Linked DNA regions of Homo sapiens: regions 1 and 2 are each linked to region 3. The links come from fine-mapping of genetic effects on gene expression. A gene starts in region 3. Each other region holds a variant in brackets. All regions are shown on one strand. Distances are between the middles of the regions. Region 1 overlaps GINM1 (glycosylated integral membrane protein 1). Region 2 overlaps PPIL4 (peptidylprolyl isomerase like 4). Region 3 holds the start of GINM1 (glycosylated integral membrane protein 1).

The links. PIP is the estimated chance that this variant, and not a neighbour inherited with it, causes the effect.
Region 1: its variant is fine-mapped to the expression of GINM1 in whole blood (TOPMed, PIP above 0.99). The same link has a PIP of 0.9 or more in lung.
Region 2: its variant is fine-mapped to the expression of GINM1 in whole blood (INTERVAL, PIP above 0.99).

Annotation. Positions count from the first base shown.
Region 1 is chr6:149,589,846-149,592,653 of GRCh38, forward strand. GINM1 (glycosylated integral membrane protein 1) reads left to right here. Exons shown (of 8, transcript NM_138785.5): 8 at 882-1,903. The coding sequence ends at 993. Among named protein-coding and RNA genes, the nearest start is that of GINM1, 25 kb to the left of the region's middle. The variant CCT/C (reference allele first, on the strand shown) is at 1,270.
Region 2 is chr6:149,525,163-149,527,970 of GRCh38, forward strand. It overlaps PPIL4 (peptidylprolyl isomerase like 4), which reads right to left. Exons shown (of 13, transcript NM_139126.4): 8 at 1,490-1,614; 9 at 1-47. Among named protein-coding and RNA genes, the nearest start is that of PPIL4, 19 kb to the right of the region's middle. The variant G/A (reference allele first, on the strand shown) is at 1,292.
Region 3 is chr6:149,564,775-149,567,415 of GRCh38, forward strand. It overlaps GINM1 (glycosylated integral membrane protein 1), which reads left to right and starts at 1,601. Exons shown (of 8, transcript NM_138785.5): 1 at 1,601-1,760. The coding sequence starts at 1,641. RefSeq lists enhancers at 768-897, 2,148-2,197 and a silencer at 1,328-1,877.

The DNA of each region.
Region 1 (2,808 bases), 25 kb after region 3:
GGCAGTGCAGTGGCACGATCTCGGCTCACTGCAACCTCCACTTCCCGGGTTCAAGCGATCCTCCCACCTCAGCCTCCTGAATAGCTAGCTAGCTGGGACTGCATGTGTCCCATGCCCAGCTAATTTTTTCTATTTTTAGTAGAGATGGGGTTTTGCCATGTTTCCCAGGCTGATCTTGAACTCCTGGGCTCAAGTGATCTGCCCGCCTTGGCCTCCCAAAGTGCTGGGATTATAGGTGTGAGCCCCTACACCTGGCCTACTATCATGTTTTAATAAAACCTTTGAGAGCTACTTAAGACAACTTTGTCTTCTCCCCATTGTTCTTTTAAAAAAAATCTTATGGCTGTTCTTGCAGTTACTCCCCTGTGAACTTTAGAATCTGTTTGGTTCTATAAACAACTAACCCCCGTTGATGTTCTTATTAGAATAACACTGAATTTACAATGCAGGGTCCTAGATTCAATCCAAAGACGTACTCTCTGGTCAGGGATTTTAAGTAACAAAAAGAGCAACACTATCTAAAGACCTAAGGTTGTGTTGTGGTGGTGAGTATTATTTAGAGAGAGGCTTAGGCTTAGGCTTTTTGCTCAGCCTGGGTGTATCTAGGAACCTAACTCTGCCTTGGAGATCTATACTTACCCTATTCTTCCCTAAAATAGGAAATAATGAACTTCCTCGATGCCTTTCTATTCTCTCAGCCAGTTTGGTTAAAGTGACTTTGGGCTCAGTTTGTACAACCACTATGAATTTTTAAATAGAATGTAGCAAAAGCACCTAACCTTAGGTGTATATTATAACCTTGAAGTAGCCTTTTCTCACTATCAAACTACAGGCAGAGGAAACATTTAATTTTGATAGTAATTAATCACTTTCTATTTCAGAGGAATTCTTCAGTTGGATAAAGTGGACGTCATACCTGTGACAGCTATCAACTTATATCCAGATGGTCCAGAGAAAAGAGCTGAAAACCTTGAAGATAAAACATGTATTTAAAACGCCATCTCATATCATGGACTCCGAAGTAGCCTGTTGCCTCCAAATTTGCCACTTGAATATAATTTTCTTTAAATCGTTAAGAATCAGTTTATACACTAGAGAAATTGCTAAACTCTAAGACTGCCTGAAAATTGACCTTTACAGTGCCAAGTTAAAGTTTACCTTATTCTCGGCCGGGTGCAGTGGCTCATGCCTGTAATCCCAGGACTTTGGGAGGCCAATGCGGGCGGATCACGAGGTCAGATCAAGACCATCCTGCCAACATGGTGAAAC[CCT/C]GTCTCTACTAAAAAAAATAAAAAAATTAGCTGGGTGTGGCGGTGCACGCCTGTAGTCCCAGCTACTTGGGAGGCTGAGGCAGGAGAATTGCTTGAACCCGGGAGGCGGAGGCTGCAGTGAGCCAAGATCACGCCACTGCACTCCAGCCTGGGTGACAGAGCGAGACTCTGTTTCAAAAAAAAAAAAGTTGACCTTATTCTCTAAAAGGGCTGGCTATTCATATGATGAATTGTTAAGGAAAACTTAAAGTGGAAGAGAACACATGTGAAGAGACTTTGAAATTATCAAAAGAAAAAAAAAAGACCAGACAAAATCTCATGTGCCAATAACTTTTCAAGGTGCCTTTGTTAAGGAAATTATATCCACTTAATTACTATAATATATAAGACTTTATGAAAAGCACTTTATAAAATTCTAATTTAAAAGGTCAAGAACTTAACACTTATTTTTTTATTCAGTACAGTGTGCCTTTATATTAAGTATGTGACTCAGTATAAAATCACTGAAGTGTATCATGATTTGATTGTATCCTGTACCAAGACTACTTACCTTGAATGCTCCAAGATTTAAAAGTAGTATGACATGTTCTCACTCTAAAATAAACTTTTTTTTTTTTTTTTTGAGGAAAAAAGTATAGCTGTTTTGGTTACACTGATATAAAACCTTTGCCCAGGTAAGAATGGCTGAGATGCAGGAGTAGGTATACTTTCATTTACACTGGCTGAAACCATGGCTCAAATTGAATGAGTCCATTGATGTCATGAATTAGACTGTGCCCTTGGTCTTGTGGTTCTAGATATAGTGCTGTTTACCCTAAAAGTGTTTTATTACCTTTTTTAACCATCACTCATATTGACATATTAATATTTTACAATGTGAACGAGTACATATAACTCATCTCTATGTGATACTTTTTTGAGATGGAGTCTGGCTCTGTCGCCTAGGCTGGAGTGCAGTGGCGCAATCTCGGCTCACTGCAAGCTCCGTCTCCCGAGTTCATGCCATTCTCCTGCCTCAGCCTCCCGAGTAGCTGGGACTACAGGCGCCCGCTACTATGCCCGGCTAATTTTTTGTATTTTTAGTAGAGATGGGGTTTCACCATGTTAGCCAGGATGGTCTCGATCTCCTGACCTTGTGATCTGCCTGCCTTGGCCTCCCAAAGTGCTGGGATTACAGGCATGAGCCACCGCGCCTGGCCCTCTATGTGATACTTTCTGTTGTTTCATTAAAAAATATTTTTACTGGCCGGGCACAGTGGCTCATGCCTGTAATCCCAGCACTTTGGGAGGCCGAGGTGGGCAGATCACGAGGTCAGGAGATCGAGACCATCCTGGCCAACACGGTGAAACCTCGTCTCTACTAAAAAAAAAAAAAATACAAAAAATTAGCCGGGCGTGGTGGGGGGCACCTGTAGGCCCAGCTACTCGGGAGGCTGAGGCAGGAGAATTGGTGTGAACCCGGGAGACAGAGCTTGCAGTGAGCCGAGATCACACCACTGCACTCCAGCCTGGGCGACAGAGCAAGGCTCTGTCTCAA
Region 2 (2,808 bases), 40 kb before region 3:
CGTAACAGAGGGACTCTCCTGTCTTCCAGTCTCGGATAACTTCACAACTGAAAGAAAGTATTTAAAAGTGACTTAAAAAAAAAAAAAAGGAAGAAAGCATTCACTCTCACTCTTCAAAACTGAAGAAGAAATAAGTCAGTTACTACAAGGCAAAGTTAAATTCATAGATTATTTTTCCAAATTCATTTAATAACAATTCTTTTTTAAAAGTAGTTCACCAGAGCAGTAACTAAATTATCTAAATTCTACTCTAAGTGCCTTATATAGGCCTACAGTCCTAAATTCCCTTAAGCACTGAAGTAAGAATAAAAATATTTAATTTTCCTTTGGCAAAAGTAAACTACTGCTAAAGACTTTTAAAATCACAACACTTTTCTAGTCCAAATATAGTCGAATTATAGAATATCTAACATCTAACATTACTGTAGAATAATGTATGCATACTCATACATATATAAATGTTTAAGTTCAAGCTTTGAAATTTTTGAATTTTAATATAAATCAAGCTCAAATTTAACACTGTAAGCACAATGTTAATTACAGAACTAATATACCATAATAACCAAGTGAAAAGGCCAATAAGCTGAAGTTGAAAGCACCTGGCTTGTCCCTTGCCCCAAGTGTCATAAGTCTCATTTTAAAAACCTCATTTTAAAAGCCGGGCGCAGTGGCTCATACCTATAACCCCAGCCCTTTGGGAGGCCAAGACGGACGGATCACAAGGTCAGGAGCTCGAGACCAGCTTGGCCAATATGGTGAAACCCCGTCTCTACTAAAAATACAAAAATTAGCTGGGCGTGTTGGCGCATGCCTGTAGTCCCAGCTACTCAGGAGGCTGAGGCAGAAGAATCACTTGAACCCGGGAGGCAGAGGTTGCAGTGAGCCGAGATCACATCACTGCACTCCAGCCTGGGCAACAGAGCGAGACTCCATGTCAAAAAAATAAACAAAAATAAATAAAATAAAATAAAATCCCTGAAACAAAAGGAAACCCTAAATATAATACTTTTTAATCAATTACAAAATAGTCCCCTTCCTCACAGAAATACTAGCTTCATAGACTTTTTCATTAATGCAGGGAAAACTAACCAAAAGAAAAATTTTAGAAAATTTAGTTTTAAATTAATTTTGACATAAATTGCTGGTAATTCCAGGAGTTGAATGAGATAAATATTTTAAATATTAAAGAAGGCTGTTGAGAGTATTACAGAACTAGATTTAAATTGTTCCATTCATTTCCTGTTTTAGGGTGAAAATGTGTTGAGAGTGGGAGATTCAATTATTTATCTGT[G/A]TGTGTGTGTGCACGTATGTATGTATGTCTACACACACATATATACTTTTCTTCCCTACTGTCCAAAGACTCACCTGTAAAAATTCACCAGTACAAAATTCGCCTAGAATTCACAGAATCATCAAAATATGTCATTAGAAAACCACCAACTGATACCTAGTTTTTCTAAATATCTCTTTCACTAATTCTAAGGATTACCTTCTTATTGGCCCAAATCTAGAGAATATTATTTCCAGATCCTCATCTGTGGTCACTGGGTTCAATTTACACACAAACAGTACATTTTCTGGAGGTTTAATATCTGCATCAGGTAGGTCTCCCACCTAAATTACAAACAAACAAAAACATAAATCAATTCCTATTTAGTTTCCATTCTAAATCCTATCCAATCCCACAATGCTGATTTCCTTAAAACATCTAAATTTATGTTACAAACTGCAGGCTCTGGAAAAGAAATCCAAATAAGATTTCAAAATTTGAACTACACTGTTCCTATTCTTAACAGTGTTAATAGCTAATATTTAAATAACTCATACTTTGTGTGAACAGTGCTTGGAGCTTCAGATCTATTACGCTAATTCTTGAAACAATCCTGCAATCTCCATTTTAAAGACAAGTAAAGCGGCTGAGCATGGTAGCTCATGCCTGTAATCCCAGCACTTTGGGAGGCCAAGGGGGGCAGATACTTGAGGTCAGGAGTTCAAGATCAGCCTGGCCAACATGGTGAAACCCCATTTCTACTAAAAATACAAAAATTAAACGGGCATGGTGGTGTGCACCTGTAGTCCTAACTACTCGGGACACTGAGGCAGTAGAATCGCTTGAACCCAGGAGGCGGAGGTTGCAGTGAGCTACGCCACTTCACCCCAGCCTGGGCGACAGAGCAAGACTCCATCTCATAAATAAACAAATAAAATAAAGACAAGTAAAGTGAAATTTAAAAGGTTAAACAAGTAACTTGCCCAAGACCACACAGTGGTAAACAACAGAGCTGGGATTTGAACCTACATTTATCTGGCTTCAAAGACCAATTTTACCCCTACTTCATCTTTTTTCAAGTATTTGATATATTTTTTAAAGGATAAGAATTTATGTAAAGTACATGTAAGTCATAAAGCATAAAAATAAAAACCACTATGATGCTACCATCTAGCTTAAGAACTAAAATGTCACCTATCCCATTCTCCCTGTGCCTCCTCATCAGAGACAACAAATACCCTGCTTTTTGGTTTTCCTTTTTCAGTCATTTCCTTGCATATCATCAGAGTTTTACCATATATGTATGCAACTCTATCACATTTAGATGGGGCAACAACATCCCTTTATACATACATTCAAACACTCTTTCAGAGATTATTTCTGATAAGATCACCTGTAAAGTGTCTCCTCTTGGATAAACATGCCCTTCCCCCCAAAATCTTGAAAATAAAAAACAGTAAGAAGCAACACAGCCAGTAAGATCTCCTCAGTGTTTCTGAAGTCTATCAAAAGACAACATTATGTCCAATAAGAAGTAT
Region 3 (2,641 bases):
GCAGGCTGGAGTGCAATGGCGCGATCTTGGCTCACTGCAACCTTCGCCTCCTGGGTTCAAGCGATTCTCCTGCCTCAGCCTCCCTAGTAGCTGGAATTACAGGTGCGTGCCAGTATGCCTGGATAATTTTTGTATTTTTAGTAGAGATGGGGTTTCACCATGTTGGCCAGGCTATTCTCGAACTCCTGACCTCAAGTGATCCACCCGCCTCGGCCTCCTAAAGTGTTGGGATTACAGGCGTGAGCCACTGCACCCGGCTTCTAGATTCCTTTTTTTTTTTTTTTTTTTAATAGACTCAGGCGATCCTCCTGCCTGCGTTTGCTGCATAGCTGGGAGTACAGGCACAAATGACCACGCCCATCTCCAAATTCATTTTTAATTCCAGCAGTAGGAAAAAAAGGAAAAGGCCAAGTTTGCAGATGGAACCCAGAAGTGTGTGGGGCTTCGCTGTGAAATCACTTGTAGCTTAACAATGGCGTGGGGAATCTCAGAGTAAGCCCGGAGTTAGTTGAAAGGAGTCTTTAGCCAAAACGTTTATAATTTATTCTGGGGCGGGGCCGGGGGAGGGGGCGGTGGCGGTCAGCAGGCCTGTGGGAGGAGGGTGTTCAAAGGAGTAAAGGGGGCTCAAAGAGAGAAATAGATTCTTGTTTCCTTTTTCATGTCAAAAGTTTTATTTCATGTCAAAAGTTTTATTTCAAAGGAAGACTAAATATTACTCTTATTCTGCCTGAATGGCCAAGTTTCCAAGTTTTTCTCAATCAACATGCAATCCTGTTAATCTAAAATGCTTGAATTTCTTGCTACTCTGCTTTACAGGGTTCCGTAACTTTTTTTTTTTTTTAAATCTGCAAGGTGGAAGAAAAGTCTAACACTTTCACTTTAGAGTTACGATACTGACCAAAAAGGCACTGACAGCCCAGGTGCGCTGGCTTCCTTCCAGCTGAGCGCTGTCCCCGCGCCGCCTCCAGGGGTCGGCAGAATGCTGAACAGTAAGCATGGCGCATCCTCAACCTTGGCCCCACAATGAATCACCCGAGAAAATTAAAAAACCACCAGGGCCCGAGCCGCAGCCCAGGCTGGAAAGTGGGGTGTTCAGGAAGACCCCAGTACTTTTTAAAGCTGCCCGGGAGAGTCCCACGTGCAGCCAAGGGTGGGGAATTACCCACTTAATAAAAACTTCCCCTGTAAATGCGATGTTTCATTTTTAATGTATAACAGTTTTCTGAAATATTACCGTTGTTTTCATCGTATAGGTACATGTACATGTGCACACACAGACACATGCATGTGTGTAAATACTAATTTTAAAAATAATGGTTACGAGGACATTTACATCGCTCCAGTTGGAGTCCTGTCCAATCCTGAGGGCGGGTCTAATGAGGGGCCGTACCTTCCAAGATTTCACTCCGCCCCTCGACGCCGCGCGGCGCTGCGCGTGCGCAAACGCCTTTCCCTGGCGAGCCGGATCTCGGAGCGTCCCCGCGCCTCTCCGCGGCCGCCCGGGGAGGGGAGGGCCCGTCCCGCCCCTCCCCGTCTCTCCCCGCCCCTCCCCGTCCCTCCCGCCGAAGCTCCGTCCCGCCCGCGGGCCGGCTCCGCCCTCACCTCCCGGCCGCGGCTGCCCTCTGCCCGGGTTGTCCAAGATGGAGGGCGCTCCACCGGGGTCGCTCGCCCTCCGGCTCCTGCTGTTCGTGGCGCTACCCGCCTCCGGCTGGCTGACGACGGGCGCCCCCGAGCCGCCGCCGCTGTCCGGAGCCCCACAGGTAGGGCAGGGCGGGCCTGGCTGGCCGCTTTACGACTCCGACTCTCCGGGAGGCCCGGGCTGTCCACAGTGACGCTTCCCACATCCCACCGGCGGGCAGGGGCGGGGGTCCGGGCCCCCGAAGGAGGTGTGGGGAGAAGCACCCCAGGAAATGGGGGCGGCGTGGGAGGCCGAGGTAAGAGGAAAGGGACCCACTGGGGCTGCGTCGCTGTGAGTGAGCCTCGAGCCACTCCACACCGACTCTCCGGCGGCCCAAGCCGGCGCGCGACCTGACGGGGCTTTGCCGTCGAAGCGCGCGGTTGCCGGTGATCAGGCCTTCGTAATGGCGCCTTCCCGGGGTAGAGCCAGCGCTTGGGCAAGGAATGTTTGTGTGCTCGGGAAGTGTGGAAGTTGCCCACTTCGCGCATTTCCAGGCCACTTGTGCCTGCTCGGCCTGCGATCGCGAGGGTCCGCCGTTCCGAGGCTGCGGGGCTCCGCCGGGCTCAGGTGGGCAGAGGGAGAGACCTGGCCCTCGCGCGACGTAATGTTTTTGTCGGATGTTGGAGGAGAAGTTCTCACGGCGGGGCGCGATCGGCGGTGTCCGCATCCCCTGGGGACTCAGCCCGGCCTCTGGGGGCGGGGCCCAGCAGTCCGGGTTGGAGAGTCCTGCAGGTGCTTCTGATGCCAGCTGAGGTGGGAGAATCGAGGCATCCTAACATTAAAACGTGGCTGATGCTCACCATTCCTGCCGTAGAGTCGTGCCTACCTAGGCCAGTATCAGCCTTTTTTCAGTAGAATGGTAGGGAAAAGTTTGAATATTTTAAAGAGCAAGTGTTCTGAGAATGACAAGAAACTATGTCGGTACACCTCTTCCTAGTCAAGACTTGAATATGAACACTCTAA